3 separate regions of the Homo sapiens genome follow, and regions 1 and 2 are each reported to be linked to region 3. Evidence: microRNA targets listed by miRTarBase, many of them from high-throughput screens and not tested one by one. Region 3 holds a microRNA gene; each other region holds the end of a gene's coding sequence.
Evidence for each region. The annotated mature microRNA hsa-miR-606 reads AAACUACUGAAAAUCAAAGAU and lies in region 3 at 3,060-3,080, opposite strand. An mRNA with a match to its seed (bases 2 to 7 or 8) in the 3' UTR can be bound and repressed. Matches are read on the target gene's strand: a 7mer-m8 pairs with bases 2 to 8, a 7mer-A1 pairs with bases 2 to 7 and ends in A, and an 8mer does both.

Region 1 (7,126 bases), not on the chromosome of region 3:
CTGCAATCCCAGCTACTCAGGAGGCTGAGGCACAAGAATCACTTGAACCCAGGAGGCGGAGGTTGCTGTGAGCCAAGATCATGCCACTGCACTCCAGCCTGGGCAACAGAGCAAGACTCTGTCTCCCGGAAAAAAAAAAAAGACCAGCCTTCCCAAGATAGTGAGGGCCACATCTCTACAAAACAAAATTTAAAAATTAGCCAGGTGGCCGGGCACAGTGGCTCAAGCCTGTAATCTCAGCACTTTGGGAGGCCGAGGCAGGTGTGTCACCTGAGGTCAGGAGTTCAAGACCATCCTGGCCAATATGGTGAGACCCTCATCTCTACTAAAAATACAAAAATTAGCCGGGCAAGGTGGTGCGTGCCTGTAATCCCAGCTACTCAGGAGGTTGAGGCACAAGAATTGCTTGAACCTGGGAGGCAGAGTTTATAGTGAGCCGAGATCGTGCCACTGCACTCCAGCCTGGGCAATAGAGTGAGACTCTGTCTCAAGAAAAAAAAAAAAAAAAATTAGCCAGGTATGGTGGTGTGCACCAGTCTCAGTTATGTGGGAGGCTGAGGTAGGAGGATCAATTTAACTCAGGAGGTCGAGACTGTAGTGAGCCATGATTGCGCCACTCTATTCCAGCCTGGGCAATAGAGTGACTGTTTTAAAACAAACAAACGAACAACTGGGTACTATGCTAAGTATCTAGGTGACAGGATCATTAGGATCCCAAATCCCAGCATCACTCAATAAAGCCAGATAACAAAAACCTGCACATGTGTCCCCCCTGAATCTAAAATGAAAGTTGAAAAAAAAAATTATGGCTGGGTGTGGTGGCTCACACCTATAATCCCAACACTTTGGGAGGCTGAGGCGGGTGGATCACGAAGTCAGGAGTTTGAGACCAGCCTGACCAACATGTTGAAATCCTGTCTCTACTAAAAATATAAAAATTAGCCGGGCATGGTGGCGCCCTCCTGTAGTCCCAGCTACTCAGGAGGCTGATGCAGGAGAATCGCTTGAACCTGGAAGGTGGAGTTTGTAGTGAGCCGAGATCACGCCACTGCACTCCAGCCTGGGCAACAGAGCAAGACTCTGTCTCAAAAAAAAAAAAAAAGAAAGAAAGAAAGAAAGAAAATTATTCAAGCCAAACATCAAACATTAACTTTTGCCATTTAATGTTTCACTCAGAAATTAAACTTTCATAACCCAGTGCAAGCTGCATAAAGAAAAAGATAATTTGACTGGGCGCAGTGGCTCACGCCTATAATCCCAGCACTTTGGGAGGCCGAGGTGGGTGGATCACAAGGTCAGGAGATCAAGACCATCTTGGCTAACACAGTGAAACTCCGTCTCTACTAAAAATACAAAACATTAGCCGGGCGTAGTGGCGGGCGCCTGTAGTCCCAGCTACTCAGGAGGCTGAGGCAGGAGAATGGGGTGAACCCGGGAGGCAGAGCTTGCAGTGAGCCAAGATTGCGCCACTGTACTCCAGCCTCGGCGACAAAGCCAGACTCCATCTCAAAAAAAAAAAAAAAAGAAAAGAAAAAGGTAATTTATTAAGCCTTGGAACTGAGAAGGCTCAGATCTGTCTGAAGACACGGCTTCATCTGAGGTCAAAGATGTCATGGAGTCTGATTTCTCTCTCCCCCTGTTTTAGCTGTACTTCTGTGCAGGCTCCATTCTCAGGCTCTCTCCTCTCTGGGGCACAGTGACTACAGAAGCCTCAGCCCCACATCCTCCCATGTTCAGGTCTAGGGAGATCCTTCATAGCTCCTGACAGGCCTTGAGGCCGGGTGCGGTGGCTCACGCCTGTAATCCCAGCACTTTGGGAGGCTAAGGCAGAAGGATAACTTGAGGCCGGGAGTTTCAGGCCAGCCTGGCCAATATGGTGAGACCCCCATCTCTACTAAAAATACAAATATTAGCCAAACTTGGTGGCACGCACCTGTAGTCCCAGCTGCTTGAGGTCGCTGGAACCCAGGAGGCGGATGTTACAGTGAGCCGAGATTGAGCCACTGCACTCCAGCCTGGGCAACAGAGCGAGACTGTCTAAAAAAAAAAAAAAAAAAAAAAAAAAGTAAATGAATGAATGAGGGAACAGAATTGGCCTGTCTCAGGATTGCTTTTTGGGATAAATATTTCCAATTAAAGGGGCAGATTGATTCTCAGCACTACGAACCATCATCTCTCCCTCTGGTAGTGATGGTCTCAGAAATTACATTTCAAGAGGAAAACAGAAAGACCAGAAGTCCTAACTACAGCAAGCAGCAAACCAACTCACTTGTCAAATGAGAGTATCTAGGATGGGAGCCTGGAATCTGCATTTTTAAACAAGTGCCTCAGATGATTCTGAATCAAGTGGTCTGGGGACCACAGTTTGGAAAACACACCCTAGAACATCCTTTTGGAGTCTGAGTGTTAACCTCACTGAGAGTCCTCCAGCTTTCCAGAGAATCAGGCTGACATCACTGTGCCTATGTAATGTGAATCAGTCTTTATTTTGCACTTGTGTGGTGCATTAACAAATTCAACATACAAGATAGCATTACATATTGTAGATTAGCATTACAGCATTATGCAATTTCACACAATTCATGTTAGCTTTTTCAGTTTTCTTTTTTTTTCAAAATTTGACACATTTATTTTATTTTTGAGTTTCATTTTTACAAGAGAAGACACAAGGTAAAGAAAGACAACCACTTTGGAGAGGGATCATGGTGAGGGCAATGTCACTGTCATGGCCATAGTACAAGCCTTCCAAGAAAAGGGACCTGCGTTATTCCCTCTCCTGAGCAAGCTGCCCCTGTCCCACAAACCAGTTCTATCTGTTTTCACATCTAGAGCACTGTCCATAAACATGTCCATCTTGGCTGTGCTCCAGTGAGATGAACTGAAAGAAGGAATAACTCATAAAGGGACCTTTGTTATTAAGAAAAATTCTTGTCTTCCCAAAGGAATCAAGATCTCTTCAGAGAAGGAGCAACTGTTGGAAAATCAGAAGTGACCATTCCCTAACCTATTCCTGACCACGAATGCCTTGTGCAAAAGCTAAGATGTGACTCTCTTGTCTTTCTTTCAACTGACTCTTAGGAGAAGGCATTCCTCCTCCACTCTTATCAGTTAGCTCTGGAAAGAACAAATGTGAAAGCCAAAGTCAGCTAAGAAACTTTGAGACGGCAAAGTCAAGGGCACGATGGATCAGGCCTGAGGTAGGAGGGAGGAGCCCTGCACTGTCCGCCTCTTTGCCTTTTTCTGGCAAAGACACTGAGGCAGTTCCTAGGCTACAGAACAACTGGTTCCTCCCCTGTCACCTCAGCACCCACTGCTCAGTAGACCCAAAGATGCAAGGAATAAAGCTACAAGGAAATGGGGAAGAGAGAGGAGAGTGGGGTGAGGCTGTTTTCCCAGACGTTTGTCAGGAGGAGCTACAGAGGCACACACAGCAGGGCAAAGACCAGACTATCTCCACCTGTTGTTTTGCATTGTTTCTGGGAAGGAAACAAAAGCGGGTTTGCTCAGCGATTTCTGATCTTTAGACATTAAGGCGATGAAGAGGAACCATTTAAATTTTTTCCTAATGGGGCTTCAGAATGCTCCTGTCAGATTTACATTAAACTATCTCAAAATGCATTTTTAGAAAACAAAAATTATTTTCTTCTACTTATGATACAGTATTTACATTTCATGGGGTATAGGACAGAGACTAGTGGTATGACCCCAACTGATGGTGAAGTTGTGAGTCAGATTATGGGGGGTGGGGGTTGGCAGGGACAAGAACAGAGAGTAGGCTTTGTGACTGCTCAGAATTGCTCTGCATTGTCAAGAACATGGGCTGAAATCAAACAAAAGGTTTAGGGGGAGCAGAATGGTTTTAAATCCACAAAAGCTGAGGGAACACTGAAAGCAAGATCACCCCCCCGTCCATAGAGACTCAGCTTTCCGACTCCCTTCGCCAAAGCAAGGTTAAAAGTGATGTTCTTCTATGGAAGTGAACACTTCAGTCTCAACTAACCTTTCACGCCCTGGATCAAGCTGTTAAGCAACAGCTTGACTGAGTTCCTCCTCAGGTGGGCAAAAATATCTACTGCCTATCCAAGTTTACCTAGTTTATTTTAATTAATTAATTAATTAATTTTTGAGACAGGATCTCACTCTGTTACCCAGCCCAGAGTGCAGTGGCATGATCATGGCTCACTGCAGCCTCTACCTCTGGGCTCAAATGATCCTCCCACCTCAGCCTCCTGAATAGCTGGGACCACAGGCGTGCAGCACCACACCTAGTTAATTTTTTGTATTTTTGATAGAGATGGAGTTTCGTCATGTAGCCCAGGCTGGTCTTGAACTCCTGGGCTCAAGCGATCTTTCCACCTCGGCCTCCCAAAATACTGGGATTACAGGCGTGAGCCACTGCGCCCGGCCCCAAGTTTACCTATTATCCATGGAGTCTGTGCCATCTGCAAAGTCTCAACGTTGGAGACACAGCTGCTGTAGGAGTAAAGAGACTTGAATTCTAATCCCAGAAAGATGCTGAATCTCTCTCAACCTCTATTGCCCATTGGTAGAAGAAGAATTGCATCCTGTAGTTCCTCCATCCCTCCACCATGTGGTAAGACATAAATTCCAAGAATTATGCAGCTCGTTTTGAGGAAAAGAATGCTCTGAAAGAATCCAACTTATCTTCATTCACTCAGTCACACTGTTATTTTTTTAAGAGCTAAATTTTTATTGAAAAATTTAAGGAGAACTTCTGAGGGCCCCTGTTTTATGAAGCAAAGCTAACCTCATTACAACATCTAAGCTATTTGAGAAGACTCTAAAGCATCTCCATGGTCGGCATTTCCAGAAAAACAAAGGCCAGTGTAATTCTTCAAACCTCTGATGACTTCCAACCCATCAACCAAGAAATGGCTGTCACTACAGTAGATAGCTGCAAAGGGGAATGGCTGTCGTCACTTGTCTCCTCTCCTTGTCCTTATACCTGAAAACAGCTTTTGGGATCAGCTGGATGTGTTCATTGGTACTATCCTATAGCTGAATTTGAAGTTTCCAAAGCTCCTTTTAGAGAAGTCATCAAGTTTGATAAAATCCAAGTTCTGATGTCTTGGATGCATAAGTCTGATGTATTCTCTGTGCTTCAGTTAGGTCTGTCAGTTAATTATAGACTGCCTTTTACTACTTCATAGCAGAAGAGCTGATAGCAAAAATACCCCATTTCTCAATTCCTCTTTCTCCTGCAAACCTTGCCTCATCCACCCCACCTTTGTTTCTTGGCTTACTGCAGACCTCTAGACCTTGAGGTCAAAGAGCAGAGATATAAGAGGCAATAAAAAGAAAAGATGGGAATGATGAAAACATGAGGTTTTATAAGAGCAAAATTTTCTTCTGCAGAGGTGGGGAGTGGGAGAAATTCTCCAGAGAAGCCCAATAAAAAGAAGCCAATTTCAGGTAATCAGCAAATACAATTCAGCACAAAACACAATTTCCATGGATTAAAATCTGCAACTTGATATTGGCAGTTAGGCTAATTTCTTCAGTTTGTATTAGACATGCAAGTATATGGTTACATTGTTATATATAGATTTATAGGGGTCTTTCCCTCTCTTTTGTCCCCCATTAAAAAAAAAAAACAAAACAAAACCAGAGGCCGGGCACGGTGGCTCGCACCTGTAATCCCAGCACTTTGGGAGGCCGAGGCGGGTGGATCACCTGAGGTCTGGAATTCGAGACCAGCCTGGCCAACATGGTGAAACCCATCTCTACTGAAAATACAAAAAATTAGCCGGGCATGCTCGTGGGTGCCTGTAATCCCAGCTACTTGGGAGGCTGAGGGAGGAGAATCACTTGAACCTGGAGGGCAGAGGTTGCAGTGAGTTGAGATCTCACCATTGCACTCCAGCCCGGGCAACAAGAGCGAAACTCCACCTCAAAAAAAATAAAGTAAAATAAAAGATTCTAGCGCCTTGCAAAGCAGAAAAAAAAACATCATTGCTAAGAACTGATCTGCAGCTGTGGTCATATAGGGTGTTCTTTGTGGAATTTGTTTTGTAAGAAATTTTCTTCTACAACTAAAATGAGGTTTGGAGTCCACTTCTCTGTCATCTTTTTCCCCTCCACATCCCTCCCCAGCTTGGCCCCCGGGGATTAGAGGAGAGAAGAACAGGATTAGTACTCGCTCAGACTGTGCCACTTGGCCACAGGCTTGCGGGGGCTCTCGCAGACCTCTCTCCAGTGTTCAGCACCACTGGCTGTGACACTGTGTGCCCCCAGGATCAGCCTCCCCACCACCTCATTCTTGGTGGTGCGATCGAAGTCGATAACGAGGAACTCGATGCTGATATCAGGCAGGAGGTCAGTGGGGATGTCGTAGATGAAAGATTCATTGAAGATGGGGTTCAAAGTGCACTTCTTCACATGGGTTTTCTTCTTGGCAATGCGCTTTCTGCCGTAGTAGACGTTCACCTTGACATAAGGATCTGGGGCCCCCAAAGAGATAAGAAAAAGGGAGACAGACCTATGACACAGTCCTCTCCTATGTAATGGTAATTTCATGTTGGGAAAGGGGGGGCTCTGTTGTTCGTATCTTTGATGGCCATCCCATGTGTTCTTTAGTGATTGCACAATAAACACACACTGACTATATGTGAGTCTGCCTGCCTGGATGAGGGGCCAAGGAAACCAAGCAGGAATAGAACAGAACAACTTTCTCAGGTTAGGTCTGAAGAAATCCCATGATACCAAGAAGTATATTAAAGGGCACAGAGACAAATGCCTGCAGCCTTTTTGAGAAGTCTCTCTTAGCACCTGGCATGAATATTATTTAGGATACCTTGCCAAATGTAAAGACCCCATTTGTTCAACTGAAGAATCTTCCTAGCCAGGGAAATCTATTGGACGTAGATACTCATCAGGAAGAGAATGTCTACAGAAAGAGGAGCAGATTAAAAGTGAAAGAGGCAAGGATCTTGAAGTGTGGAGGTCTATCTGGGCCACAGGCAAGGAGTCGGGGATGGTTCAGACAGTAAGAAATAGGTTGAAGTAAATAGCTGCTACCTGAGAGACCGGTGATATCCATCTTCGGCAAGTGTCTGGCTTTGAGGACCACCACTGTCATTCTCTGTGCCACAGGCTGATATGACAG
Region 2 (7,126 bases), not on the chromosome of region 3:
GAAGCTGAAAAGACAATGAAGTCATATGAAATGACGTAGCAAGTGGTCACCAAAGTATATAAAATGTATTTCAAGTTTTGATGCCCAGTCCAACCCTTCTGTGGCATCTCTTTCCCCCTGACAATAAGGACCAGAGGTGAGAAAAACAAACTAGGAGGCAGTCTTCAACCCTGGTCTGAGGGAACTGTAGCCAGTGACACTTTCCTGGTCCTCCATTTCCTCATTTGTAAGATGATCTTAGAGGCTCTTTCCAGCTTTAAAGTTTTAAAATATACCAAAATAACTGTTTTTCCAGGGCAGTGCTGTGTGAATTATTTTTAAGTTTTTTTCTTCATCCCCAAATTTGTTTAGTGGCATTTGGTAAGTAAATTTATAAAATCTGTAAAGGGAAGAATTAGAGAAAAGAAAAAAAGATTAGAACTCTTCAAGAGACATTACTTTGGCACCACCTGCTGGATAGCTTTCACATTTTTTCCTGTGCATAAACTTCCATTGCAGCTTCTTGTTTTTTCAAAATGATTTTAAGGAAATACTGTCAAAATTATTTACATCTGAAATCAGATATAAATCAGGTCAGCCTCTGACCAGATGTAAATATCAGGTCACCTCTGTTAATGTAGCTGTACATTCCCTATCACTTAAGGGGCATAAAACTTGCTCTGGGTAACTTCATCTTAATACAAGTGAATCAATCCTGGAATGTGTTTGAATTTCATATGCCATTTGTTTCAATTGAGTCTCAGTCACCCCTCAATCATTGCTGTACCTTTCACATTAACCTTAGCTGCCTCCTGAAGGCTATGCACCAGGCACTTTAGATACATTGTCTTACTTAACCTTCTCTAACAAGCAAACAGCACTTTGTTAACCGAAACTCCTCTCTCCTCAGGACTTCGAGGACAACCCTTCTAGGATGATTCCCACCAGTATTATACCAGCCTTGCCACCTGCCAGGATGGTAAACTATCAAATTATTTAACCTCTCTCTCAGTTTTCTAATCTATGAACCAAGGGAACTAATACTTCATTGGCTACTGTGAGAATACAGTGGTTACCAAAGCCTGGCACTCTGCAAGTGCTCCCAAGTCTGCCAAAATGGTCATCAGTCTTATGACAACAGCCCTTCCTTTCCCTCTGGGACTATCCATCTTGTCCCTCTCACTCCTCACATGTCAAAGGTGGGAGAATGTCCATGAAGAAAATTCTCCATGTCCCATCTACTTACAGCAAGATGGATTTTTTAAATTAATTAAGATTAAGCTGTGAACCAAGACACACTTTTCTAGATTTTCTGATACATAGTCTAAGGCACTATTATTATTATTATTATTATTATTATTATTATTATTATTGAGAGTCTCGCTCTGTCGCCCAGGCTGGAGTGCAGTGGCACAATCTCGGCTCACTGCAAGCTCCGCCTCCCAGATTCACGCCATTCTCCTGCCTTAGCCTCCCGAGTAGCTGGGACTACAGGTGCCTGCCACCATGCCCAGCTAATTTTTTTCTATCTTTAGTAGAGATGCGGTTTCACTGTGTTAGCCAGAATGGTATCGATCTCCTGACCTCGTGACCCACCCATCTCGGCCTCCCAAAGTGCTGGGATTACAGGTGTGAGCCACTGCGCCTGGCCAAGGCACTATTATTTTTACATATTTATGTTGAATATGTTTCTTAGAAAATTAGGGGTAAAAATTAGGCCCTAGGGTATGGTGGGTCCGCAAGATGGAAATAAACCCCGGGTGTCTGAGGGACATGTGGAGGAGGGTGGCCCTTCCCACCTCTATACCTACTGAAGAATTGTCACATGAGCAAGAAATAAACTTTTTGTCTTAAGTTTCTGAAAGGCTAAAATCAAGTTGTGACCACAGCCTGGCTGAGCCTCAACACTAACCATGTATGCCACCCCAGTGCTTTTCCACTCAATCCTTTCTCTACTTTTTTTTTTTTTTTTTTTTTGAGACGGAGTCTCGCTCTGTCGCCCAGGCTGGAGTGCAGTGGCCCAATCTCAGCTCACTGCAAGCTCTGCCTCCCGGGTTCACGCCATTCTCCTGCCTCAGCCTCCCGAGTAGCTGGGACTACAGGCGCCCGCCACCACGCCCGGCTAATTTTTTGTATTTTTTTTTTAGTAGAGACAGGGTTTCACCATGTTGGCCAGGATGGTCTCGATCTCCTGACCTTGTGATCCACCCACCTTGGCCTCCCAAAGTGCTGGGATTACAGGCGTGAGCCACTACGCCCGGCCTTTTTTTTTTTAAATTATCTTTATTTCAAAATAATAATTAATTATGTAATTATTTATGTAATTAAGAATTATGTAATTACTTAATTCTGTAACTTTACAGAAAAGTTGGAAGATAGAATGCATTTTTTCTGAACCATGAGAGTAAGTTGCTCTACCTTATTTTTACATAGATAAGCATTCACATATGTGCCACTGCATCACAGTTCTTATAAGTATTTTTATTATAAATTCTTCATAATTTAATGGCTATACAATATCTCATAAAGTAGCTGGTTAAACCATAATTCACTTAACTATGATATTGTTTGTCTCTAATTTTATTTCTACTTTAATATTATAATAAACACTTTTGTGGAGAAACTTTATTCTGTATTTTGAATCATTTTTTAAAATATCACCAGAATTGACATTATTCAAAGGTTATAAACACATTGTTGAACTTTTCACAAAAAAGGAAATCAACTATATTACCATCATTAATAAGTGTGCTCATTTCATCAGACTTTGAAAGCAAAAGGATTTTACAAATATACCATAGTACAAACTTATGTTAATTTGATTTTTTAAACTATCCCCTATCTTTTGTTTTGCATTTCTTTACTACTACTGAGGTTGAGCACTTTTCCATGTTTGATTAGCTGTGCCTCCTGTTTTAAGAATTTTATGTCCTGCCATCTATTGGAGTCTATATATGTCTATATGTCCTACAGATTTATATAATCTAGCACCAATAAATACTATCAAGAATCAATCATTCAAATTCAGAGCATTTTTATTAAAAGAACAAAATATTAAGGCACAAAATACATCAATTTTTCAAATGAAAACCCTTCAAACGGTTATGTCCTACATTCAACGAAACTTCTTCCAAATTACGGAATAATTTAACTTTTTAAAATAGAAAAATACAAGTTCTTAAATGCCTAAAATTTCTCCCCAAATAAATGTTTTCTTAGTTTTAATGAAGTCTCTTCATGCAGTACTGAGCTCCAATATTATAATGTACACTTCCTTAAAAATCTAGTTTTGCCACTTATATACATTCAATATGTTTAACCAGTATATTAACCAGTATATTAACCAATATGTTAAACTTCTTTTAAGTATAAGGCTTGGTATTTTGTATTGCTTATTGCATGCTTTGATCATACAAAGACACAAGTACCAGAACTAGTGATTATAAATCTAGCATAGCATCTGTCAACTTTAGTCATGTACAGCCTAGTGCAACAGACTCGAACTTTTTTTTAAAAAAAGGATACATAACTCAAAATGTATATGTACATTTTTTATACTTTCAGCTTGACAGTATAGTAATGTAAACATTGTACTGTAATACAAGGGGAAAAGGTGGTATTTTCTACAGGATGTGTAAGTTAAAATATTATTTTCTTTACAAGAAAAATATGGGAACATTCTATCATCTCTCAGGCTTAAAAAATTCACATATTCACATATTTTTCCTTATTTTTACAATAAAATTAATTGCTATCTAAAGCAGATATTTAAATACTAATCTAAATCAAATCATGAAAATTCCCTTTTAAGCAAATTTCACACATCGTATGAATGAATGGCATAACCAGAACACTTAAGCATTTTGCCTAGAAAAACATCAAACCAGACCCGTATCCTCACTAACAGTGAGACCCACCCTGATGGGGGCATGCTAAAAGTAAACTGATTTGAGTGCCTCAGAGGCCCTGATGGCCAGTTTCAGGAAACTGTGCAGAAACAGGGATGATGAGCTGCTCAGTAGCCCTAGGTATAACTTCTCCTGGTGTCCTTCCTGTGAACTACAGCTATGGCACTAGAGCACCCCTCTTGCGTATGTAAGGGGCCTAAGAAGACCCTTCATAGAAATACTCGATCCAGGTCATCAGTCATCAAGAGATGGCACAAATATTACTGAAGGTGACAGACAGCACATGCCCTTCTAGTAACAGTATTTGTAATGAGGTTACTAGGAGGGAATTCTGCTTTCTCTGGATGGAAGAAAAGTTTGCACTGCAGCCTGTAGCTGAGCTACAGGGTAGCATCATTTATCCTACCAGCTGTAGAAAGACATGTTTTGGTAAACATTACTGAGATTCTGTCAGAGACAGTTTCCCTTTATTAACATACTCACCATTAACTCCACACTCCCACTCTACCAGATTTGCAGCTCCTACTGCCTGCAAGCCCAATATTCCACATTTTAAAATTCAACTAGAGCCACATAATGAGTAGGGGGTCAATCTGTCTCAAAACTTGGGGAATGGGGTATTAGATAAAAATGTTACTGGGCTAAGGGGAGAATACAACAGAACATAAATGCTGGGAATTATAGTGGGTGGGAACCCATTACTGCAGCAGAAACTGAAATAAGAAATGGAATTCACAATTGTTAAACTACTTTTTTTTTTTCTCCCTAGGAAGGATATCCCAAAGCAAGGGCATCTTGAAAAGCATGATTTTCTCGGTAATGTTTGCCAACACTGTTCACTTTCCACATGGTCACGACTGAAAACACATTTACCAATACCTTTCAAGCGATATGACTACCAGAAATAGATCTTCTTTACTACCCTCTCTGAAATGAGTAAACAAGAAATAAATTCAGAAGGTAGGCTTTTGAAAGAAAAAGAAAAAAAATTGCTTGCGGCTTCACAGTGAAAAAAATTGGAGTGTTTGTGCCGGTTAAGATTTTAATGTTTTCTTAATCAAAATTCTCTGAAGTCATTCTCAATTTACAAGGTTAGAACTCCTTCAAAGAAAAGACATACAAGACTCTAGCTTTAATTATTATTCTAAATGTCCACTAGCCCTGTATCTTTGGTCATGAAAGCAGCAAAACATTCACATTTTCATCATACTACATTCAATTGCCTTTCAAGTTTAGAACATTCTACATTTTAAAAAAAGACATTAAAGCAAAAGATTTCATATTACACATTACAAATATATGATGTAACGAAATAAGGTATAAAACATGGTTGAAGCTTAAGAAATTAATTATAAAATCAATAGTGATGTAGCATGCAACTAAATGTATGTTTTTATTATGAAATGTAATATGCCAAGATTATGTAAAAGATACAGTTCTAATTTCCACAAAGTTCACCAGTAATGGGTCTCCCAGCTTGCCAGTTAGGAAGTGCTCTGGGGGAGCCACGTGGCCACCACCCACCCCAGCACACTCAGCAGCATCGCATGTACACATGGCCTGAGTGAGGGACAATGAGGGTAATTCTTTGGTAGTGACCCTCAAGACATCTCTCTCTGTGCACTTGTGTTCCCCTGAGCTCAGAGAAGACCTAACTCCATGATTTGATGTGCATGATGAGACTCAAACAAGGGCTTTGTATAGATTTTTTAAAAAGGGTGGGTTGGGGGGGAGCGGAAAAAACCTATAAATATGCCTATATTCAAACATTAACTGTTTTACTTAATATCAAATCACTTCAGTACAAATGTCAAAGAGAAGTATTATTGCATCTAGTAAACCTAAGACACAGAGACACGGATATACTATACTCCAGAAAATCACAATATCTACCTCAAAGGTGACTAGAAGAAAGACCAAGGGTATTTATTAAAAAACATTTTTCTTTAATCTGGAATTGTCATATGTTCCAGAGAAAAGAGGGAGAACCCAAACCCACAGGCCTGCCACCTATCAGCTAAGAGGCATCTGTGCAGATCTTTATCATAATACTTTCCTCAGGTTATTTCCAAATCCAATTTAATGGATATTCAACTGACACTCAAGAGTCAGCTTTAAAAGGACTATAGAACCTCCTACCATCTGAATTCTTCATTTTGATACACAGACTTCCAAGATAACACAATAAAAATTTTTAGGCAATATCAAATCAAAGCTCACTTTCAGTCTTGATGAAGGATAGTCCTTCAGGCTTAACTACATTTCTTATACGGGTTCCAATCACATTATCTTTTCTGAAGAGAACATTTTTTCAGCCATTTCAGATCTGGTCATGATTTCCTGAAGAAAAAAAAAGAAGATATGTATCAACATGTTGATACTACTTCCAGAACCCTAACAAAAATTTTCTAATCTTTCAACAGCCACATTTAGGGAAACTAAATATATTCCATAATATACATGGAAATATTACATACAGAAAATAAAAGGCCAAGTACAGTGACTCATGCCTGTAATCTCAGCACTTTGGGAGGCCGAGGCGGGAAGGCTGCTTGACGCTAGGAGTTCGAGACCGGCCTGGGCAACATAGAGAGACCTCATCCTTATAAAAAATTTAAAAATTAAAAAATAACCATATAATCCATACTCTCCAATAATGTATAGTCAGTTATCTGCTGAGAAGTTCAGAAAACTTCAACTTCCTGCTAGCTAGAAAACATGTCAAGTTCAGAATCTCCAATGAGAGGCAGGAATAGAGCTAAAATGGATTTCTTAGGCCTAGCTCATCTAGAGATTTGCCTCACTTTACTAAATTAATGTATTATTGAAATTACAAATGAATTATTTACTAAAACTTTAAATACAGAAAGATGTAGCATAAAATTCCTTTTAAAGGGGCATTTAAAGTACTTTTAATCTACATGCTACATCTTTCTGTAGAGTTATGAATCTTTCTGTAATGCTACCTCTTTCTGTAGAGTTATGAATCTTTCTGTAATGCTACATCTTTCTGTAGAGTTATGAATCTTTCTGTAATGCTACATCTTTCTGTAGTTATGAATCTTTCTGTAATGCTACATCTTTCTGTAGAGTTATGAATCTTTCTGTAATGCTACATCTTTCTGTAGAGTTATGAATCTTTCTGTAATGCTACATCTTTCTGTAGAGTTATGAATCTTTCTGTAATGCTACCTCTTTCTGTAGAGTTATGAATCTTTCTGTAATGCTACCTCTTTCTG
Region 3 (7,126 bases):
ACTGCAAAACACTGTCTCCCCTAAGGTAGGCAGCAGTTCATATTTCAGTTCAATTGTTTCAGCCTTATCTAGCCAGTGTGGAATCTGCACCACACATGAAGTTCAAAGTCCAGCTTAGATTTAGGTAGATTTTATACATGGAATTTGGGGCTCCACTCTGTGGCTCACTCCTTTCAGAGACCCCACTCCTTCCAGCAGCTAAGGTTGTCCTGAACTCTAGTCTCTGGTTATCCAAGCCAACCAAGATACATATTTTCTATCAAGTTATCTATCTTCCCACATGGCACAGACTGAAGGCTGTACTCAAGAGAAAAGCTGTAGAAAATGAGAAATTCACCCTAAGCCTTTCCCTTCTTCCAAGAGTCAGCTCCCCTTCCGGTAGCTGCCTGCATCTTCTCCCTTAGTAATCATGTAAGAAAAGTGTGGTTGCTCCATAGTTTTCTCTAGAACTCTCTCATAGGGCCATGGAGAGCAGACAGCCCAGGGCCCACCAAACTCCTCCCCATCAGAATCAGAGACTGTCCCTTCTCATCAGATACCCATGGATGCTTAAATCCCAGCCCCTCAGGACTAACTGAAAAGGACCAGTAGATCATCCTGTCCCATCTCCTATGGAGGAGAACAAGAATCCACTCCACCCTGGCTGATATTCTGCTTAAATCTCTCTACTGACAAGAGTATACAACTTTAAGGAAATATAAAAAGAAAAGTAAATGACTTGGACACATTACATACTTCATTTCTTTGCATCTACTCAATCATCCTTTAACGAAAGTATTATCATCCTCATTTTACAGATGAGGAAACTAGGCCTCAAAGAAAGATGTTAACTTGCCTATGTTCTCTCTTCTAGAAAATAGTACAGCCAGGTTTTGAATTTTGGTCACTACAACTCTAAAAGCTCACATCCGTTCCACATTGTCTATCCCACTTTCAACGTCTTTAAACATTGGCAAGTTCTTTCTTAGATTAAACTGAAGTCTGCCACCTTATAATTACCATCATTAGCTGTAATTCATAATTCTAGATTGGGAGCTCCTAAGAGTAGTGATAGGAACTCATTTGTCTTTGCATTCCTAGTACCTAGCACAGAGGAGGGGCTAAATAACTGATCGGTTAATTGATTAATGCCATTAGAAATGTCAGGTAAAAGTCTACACCTACCTCATCACATCAATCTCACAGCTATGTACAGTGACTATCATACACCATGTTCCTCTCTCCAACATCATTTCTCTTCTGCAGTATAAATGTTCCTTGTTTGTTTCATTGCTTCCCATTTGGAAGGATTTCTAGAATCCTCCTGATCACCCTGGACACACTGCAACTGACCAGTGTCACTTAAAATATCATCTAGGAATTCCATTACTTCTCAGGATGCAGAAAACTACAAATAAGCATCACTCCCATACTAAAAGGAAAAAGCCAGATAATCTACAAAATCATAACTTTTCTCCAACCCATCAGAGAGCTGAGGTTGCAAGGCAAATGGTGAACTTAATTTCAAAGTGTGACTAGTCCCTCCAAGAACAGATAGAACACACAAAGCATTTCTTCTTTAGCAGAGGACAGATTGAAAAGGTAGCCATCAAAAAAGTAAATAAAAAGAAAACAGCTAACATTTTAACAAATTTTTTAATGTTGGATATGGGCTAACAAGAAAGTTTAGAATTCCCAAGAGCCCCAGCCACAAGGAGAGTCTGCACTCACTCCTCATTTTTTTCCCCATGGTGCTCACAAGAGAGATTAAGACCAAACAACAGATAAAAGAGAGCCCCCTACACTGTGCACAGGCATGAAATCTTGCCTACTTCCCAGGCCCTTCTCTCATAAAAAAGAGAAGTCATAAGCCACTAAGGAGGAAGCCACTTCCTCCTTAAAAGGTGCGCTTTAACTAAAGGAGAGATAGAAGCAAAATATGTCTGCCTCTGGGTGAAGGGGTAGAAAACCTTTTCAGTTACAGAATCTTGCATAGATATAGAGGCCTGCTGCCCTGGAGGAGGGACAGAAAATGCTCTCCTACCCAAGAGTCCCAACAAATATGAGACAGAAAAAGTCTCATACCTGGGACCCAGATACACAGGGCCTACCTAAGACTGAGATCCTCCACCACACCACAAGCTTCACACTGAGTAATAAGCAACAGCAGTCTAGCCCTCAAAGAGGGGCAACAGCATTGAGAGAGACCCATTCTCTAGAGTAAGCATATGGGACCAGCTGAAAGCTGAGGATGAAATGGAAACTTGAGGAAAACCCTTCATCTCTCCAGGCTCACCACTAAGCAAAGGTAGCAGCAAGCCACCACTGGAAGAATTTGAAGCTGTCATAGAACAAAACTCAGATCTAGCTCAATTACTGACTGCATTGACTCAACTACCCACACTAACATCCCAACAGAAGAGTCTCCATTTCCAAGCATAAATACTATTTGCCTCAGTCTCTACTGTTCTTTTATATGCATTATCTGGCATTGAATCAAAAATTATCAGACAAAAAGCAAGAAAAAAAATGAAGACTCTTGGTCAAAAGATAAAGTAGTCAACATTACCAGAAACAGATGTGATGCAGATGTTAAAATTATCAGATAGGGACTTAAAATAACTATAATTAAGTTTTTAATCTAGAGAAAAAGGTAGACAACATGAATGAATAAATAATTGTAAAAGAGAAATGGAAACTTTTTCTTTAAAATGAGTCAAATGGAAAGGCTAGAAATCAAAAGGATAACAAAAAGGAAGAATTTCATCATAAGGTTTATCAACAAACTGAACACAGCAGAGAAAATGATTTACAAACTTGAAGATAGGTGAGTAGAAATGATCCAAAATAATAACAAGGAAAAAAAAAAGCATATGAGAGCTATAGGATAATAGTAAACAGTATAACATATATTTTGAATCCCAAAAGTAGGAGAGAGAGAAAAGGAAGCAGAAAAAAAAAGTTTGAAGAGATAATAGCTACGAATTTTCCAAAATTAATTAAAAAGAGCAAACCACAGTTCAAAGAACCTCAGAAAATCCCAAGTAGGGGATGAGGGGTAGAAGTGGTCAGGCACTTGTATCTTTGATTTTCAGTAGTTTACTATGATGGGGTGGATGGCACACCTCATCATAGTAAAACTACTAAAAACCAAGGATACAGTGAAAATTCTGAAAGCAGCCAGAGGGGGGGGAAAAAAAAAAAACACAGAACAAAGCTAAGAATGACAGCGCACTGCTCAACAGAAAGAATGCAATGCAAAAGAAAATGGAGTGACACCATTAAAGCACTGACAGAAAAAACTGTCCACATGGAATTCTATACAAGTGAAAGTATCTGCTAAAAAATGAAGGTAAGATAAAGAATTTTTCAGACACACAGAAACTGAAAAAATTCATTGCCAACATACCATACTATGATGATGTTAAATAAAGACCTCAGGCAGGAGTCTGGTACTAGAAGGAAATTCAGATCTACAGAAAGAAAGAGCTCTAGAAATGATTAAAATGTGGATAATAAAAGACAGATTGTTTTTATTTCTTTTATTTTTTAGAGACACGGTCTAACTCTGTTGCCTAGGCAGTGTCTAACTCTGTTGCCCAGGCTGGAGTGCAGTGGTGCAATCACAGCTCACTGAATCCTTGACCTCCTGGGCTCAGGCAATCCTCCTATCTCAGTCTACCAAGAGGCTGGAACTACAGGTTTGAGCCACCACACCCAGCTAATATTTTTTTTAATGTTTTGTAGAGAATGGGTCTCACTATGTTGCCCAGGCTGGTCTCAAACTCCTGGCCTCAAGCGATCCTCTCACCTAAGCCTCCCAAAGTGCTGGGATTACAGGCATAAGCCACAGTGCCCAGCAAATTTTTTCTTAATTTTAGCCTCTCAAAAAAAATAGCTGACTCAATGTGGCACGTATACACCATGGAATACTATGCAGCCATAAAAACGGATGAGTTCATGTCCTTTGCAGGGACATGCATGACGCTGGAAACCATCATTCTCAGCAAAGTAACACAAGAACAGAAAACCAAACACCACATGTTCTCATTCATAAGTGGGAGCTGAACAATTAGAACACATGGACACAGGGAGGGGAACATCACACACTGGGGCCTGTTGGGGGATGGGGGCTAGGGGAGGGGTAGCATTAGAAGACATACATAATGTAGATGATGGGTTAATGAGTGCAGCAAACCACCATGGCACGTGTATACCTATGTAACAAACCCGTATGTTCTGCACATGTACCCCAGAACTTAAAGTATTATAAAAAATAAATAAATAAATATCAAGTAAGCCAGGCCCTCCATGGTCTTACTTTTTAGTGCTTCTACACCTACATATCTCCTGGTAAGGTTGAACCACACTTTCTTTTGTTGCTCTACTTGTGTTCATACTGTTCTATTTCTGTGGAACATCCTTCCTCAAATCCTAGGTTAAAAAAAAAAAAAAAGATAGCTGACTGCAAAATATATTTAGTTTGCAAATAGATTAAACTAGAAAATATTTAAACAGAATATTTTCATTTTCCTATTAATCAAGTAAAAAAAACATTTTCCCAGGTTAAAAAAAAAAGATAATTGCTGTCTAAAGAAAAGATAGTACCAATGATCAGTAGAGTTTATAACATATGTAAAAGTAAAATGTAGACAATAGAACAAAGGATGGAAAGAAGAAAATGGAAGAGTACCATTGTAAGATTCTTAAACTATAAATAAAGCAATGTATTATCTGAAGGTAAACTGTGTTAAATATATATACTGTACACCCTAAAGCAATCACTAGAACATTTTTAAAAGGAGTAAACTTATAAGCCAGTGGTGGAGATGAAATGAAATCATAAATATATACAAATAATTCAAAAGAAGGCAGGAAAAGAAGGAAATAGAGAACATATAAGACACATAGAAAACAATTTGCAAAATGGTAGACTCAAAACCAACTATACCAATAGTTACATTAAGGATAAATGGCCTAAACATTCCAAATTAAAAAGCAGATATAATCAGACTCGTTATGAAAGCAAGACCTGACTATATGCTCTCTAAAAGAAATTCATTATAAATATAAACACAGAGACATATATTAACAGTGAAAAAATAGATACAACACAAACATTACACAAAAACTCCAGTCTGTATAATAACATAATACAAAGTAGGTTTCAGAACAAGGAATATGTTTAGGAACAAAGACTCAGTTCATCAAGAAGATATAACTAATGTATATGTATGCATCTAACAACAGAGTTCCAAAATACATAAAGAAAAATCTGATCAAACTGAAAGAAGTAGACAAAAACCAGGAAGAATAGGAGACTTGAATACTCCTCTCTTAGTAATTTATATAAAAAGTAGATCAAAAATAAGTAAAGATATAGAAGCCTGAACAACACTATCAACCAAATTGAATTAACTGACATCTATAGACGATTCCAACCAACAATAGCAGAATCCACATTCTTTTGAAGGGCCCATGGAACATTCACTAAGACAGACTAGTTTCTGAGCAAATGTTTATAGCTGCTTATTCAAAATAGCTAAAACTTTAAACAGTCCAAACAGCCATCAAATGGTGAATGTGTCAAGAATTGTGGTACATTCACACAATAGAATACTACTCAACAATAAAAAGAAACAAACTAGTGATACATGCAACTACATGGATGAATCTCAAAAGCATTATGCTAAGTGAAAGAAACTAGGCACACAAAAGGGTGAATACTGTATGATTCCATTTTTATGACATTCTGGGGATAGGCAAAGCCACTGAGACAATAATTACATCAGTGCATGCCATGAGCCAAGGAAGGAGAAAGGAGATTGAAAAGTGGGCACAAGGAAACTTTTTATGGCGATAAAAATGTTACGTCTTGATTATGATGATGGTGGTTACATGACTGTATGCATTTGTCAAAAATCATCTGTGCACTTAGAAAGGGAATTAATTGTGCATAAATTATATCTCACTAAATCTGACTTCAAAAATAAAAAATAACCTGAAGCAGTGGCATGTACCTGTAGTCTCAACTACTCAGGAGGCTGAGGCAGGAGGATCACTTTAGCCCAGGAGTCTGAGGTTGTAGTATGCTGTGACTGTGCCTGTGAATAACCTAGACAATGTAACAATACCTTGTCTCTAAAAATATATACAAATAAATAAAATTAAAAACAAATTTAAATACAGTGGTCTGTTGGTATGGGAGATTGGTTCCAGGACACCCCACAAATACCAAAATCTAAGCATGCTCAAGTCCTTTACAGGCAGCCCTTCATATGTGCAGGATCTGCATTCCAGATCAAACATCCCAATATTCAATTGATTGAATATTCTGAGCAAATATTTATTGCTGCTTATTCAAAATAGCTAAAACTTTAAACAATCCAAACAGCCATCAAATGGTGAACGTGTCAAGAATTCTGATACATTCACACAATAGAATACTACTCAACAATAAAAAGAAACAAGCTAGTAATACATGCAACCACATGGATGAATCTCAAAAGCATTATGCTTTTGAGTGAAAGAAACTAGGCACACAAAAGGGTGAATACTGTATGATTCCATTTCAGATTGAATATTCAATTTGTAGTTGGTTGAATTGGTGGATGCAGAAACAGTGGATATACAGGGCCAACTGTACCATTATCCAAGATAGGAAATTGTAGTAATAAACTAATAACAGTAATAATAAATAACTCTTAACATGGTCAGATCAGCATAGGTCTTGACTAACCTTCCTGGAAAAGACTTTTTGAGGAGTTACCTCCTTCTGTTGCCTCAAATGGAACTTCACTGAGCTCCTGGCTCCATTACAGATAGGTCTATACAACCCGAGTATGTATATTTCCGACAGATACTTAGATCTTTTTTATAGGCCAGAGATCAAAGAGATAAGAAATATTACATATTTCAATAACATGAAGGAATATGAAAATTCATTTTCATGTTTGTAATGAGCCACCCAGCATCTGGTTCTGAGTTGTTTTGCTTAAGAATGCAGAGAGTTCAAAAAGGAGTTCTGAGAAGCAGAAGACCATCTGGGGCTCCTGTGCTGAAAATAGGAACTACCCCTCATTGTTTAAGATACTGTGGGATGTCCAGGTCAGAAGGAACCTAATTAGCGAGGAAGGAGGCCTAGGCT

Region 1: the mRNA of SYT11 is a reported target of hsa-miR-606. The part of its 3' UTR that is shown has no 7-base or 8-base seed match.
Region 2: miRTarBase lists TMEM87B as a target of hsa-miR-606. Seed matches in the 3' UTR shown: 7mer-A1 at 6,141-6,147 and 7mer-m8 at 4,632-4,638.

The regions. Positions count from the first base shown.
Region 1 is chr1:155,880,533-155,887,658 of GRCh38, reverse strand. SYT11 (synaptotagmin 11) reads right to left here. Exons shown (of 4, transcript NM_152280.5): 3 at 7,036-7,126; 4 at 2,460-6,461. The coding sequence ends at 6,151. Among named protein-coding and RNA genes, the nearest start is that of SYT11, 25 kb to the right of the region's middle.
Region 2 is chr2:112,115,185-112,122,310 of GRCh38, reverse strand. TMEM87B (transmembrane protein 87B) reads right to left here. Exons shown (of 19, transcript NM_032824.3): 19 at 2,997-6,227. The coding sequence ends at 6,168. Among named protein-coding and RNA genes, the nearest start is that of FBLN7, 20 kb to the left of the region's middle.
Region 3 is chr10:75,548,472-75,555,597 of GRCh38, reverse strand. MIR606 (microRNA 606) reads right to left here and starts at 3,140; the gene lies at 3,045-3,140. All of the region lies in intron 2 of LRMDA (leucine rich melanocyte differentiation associated), which reads right to left.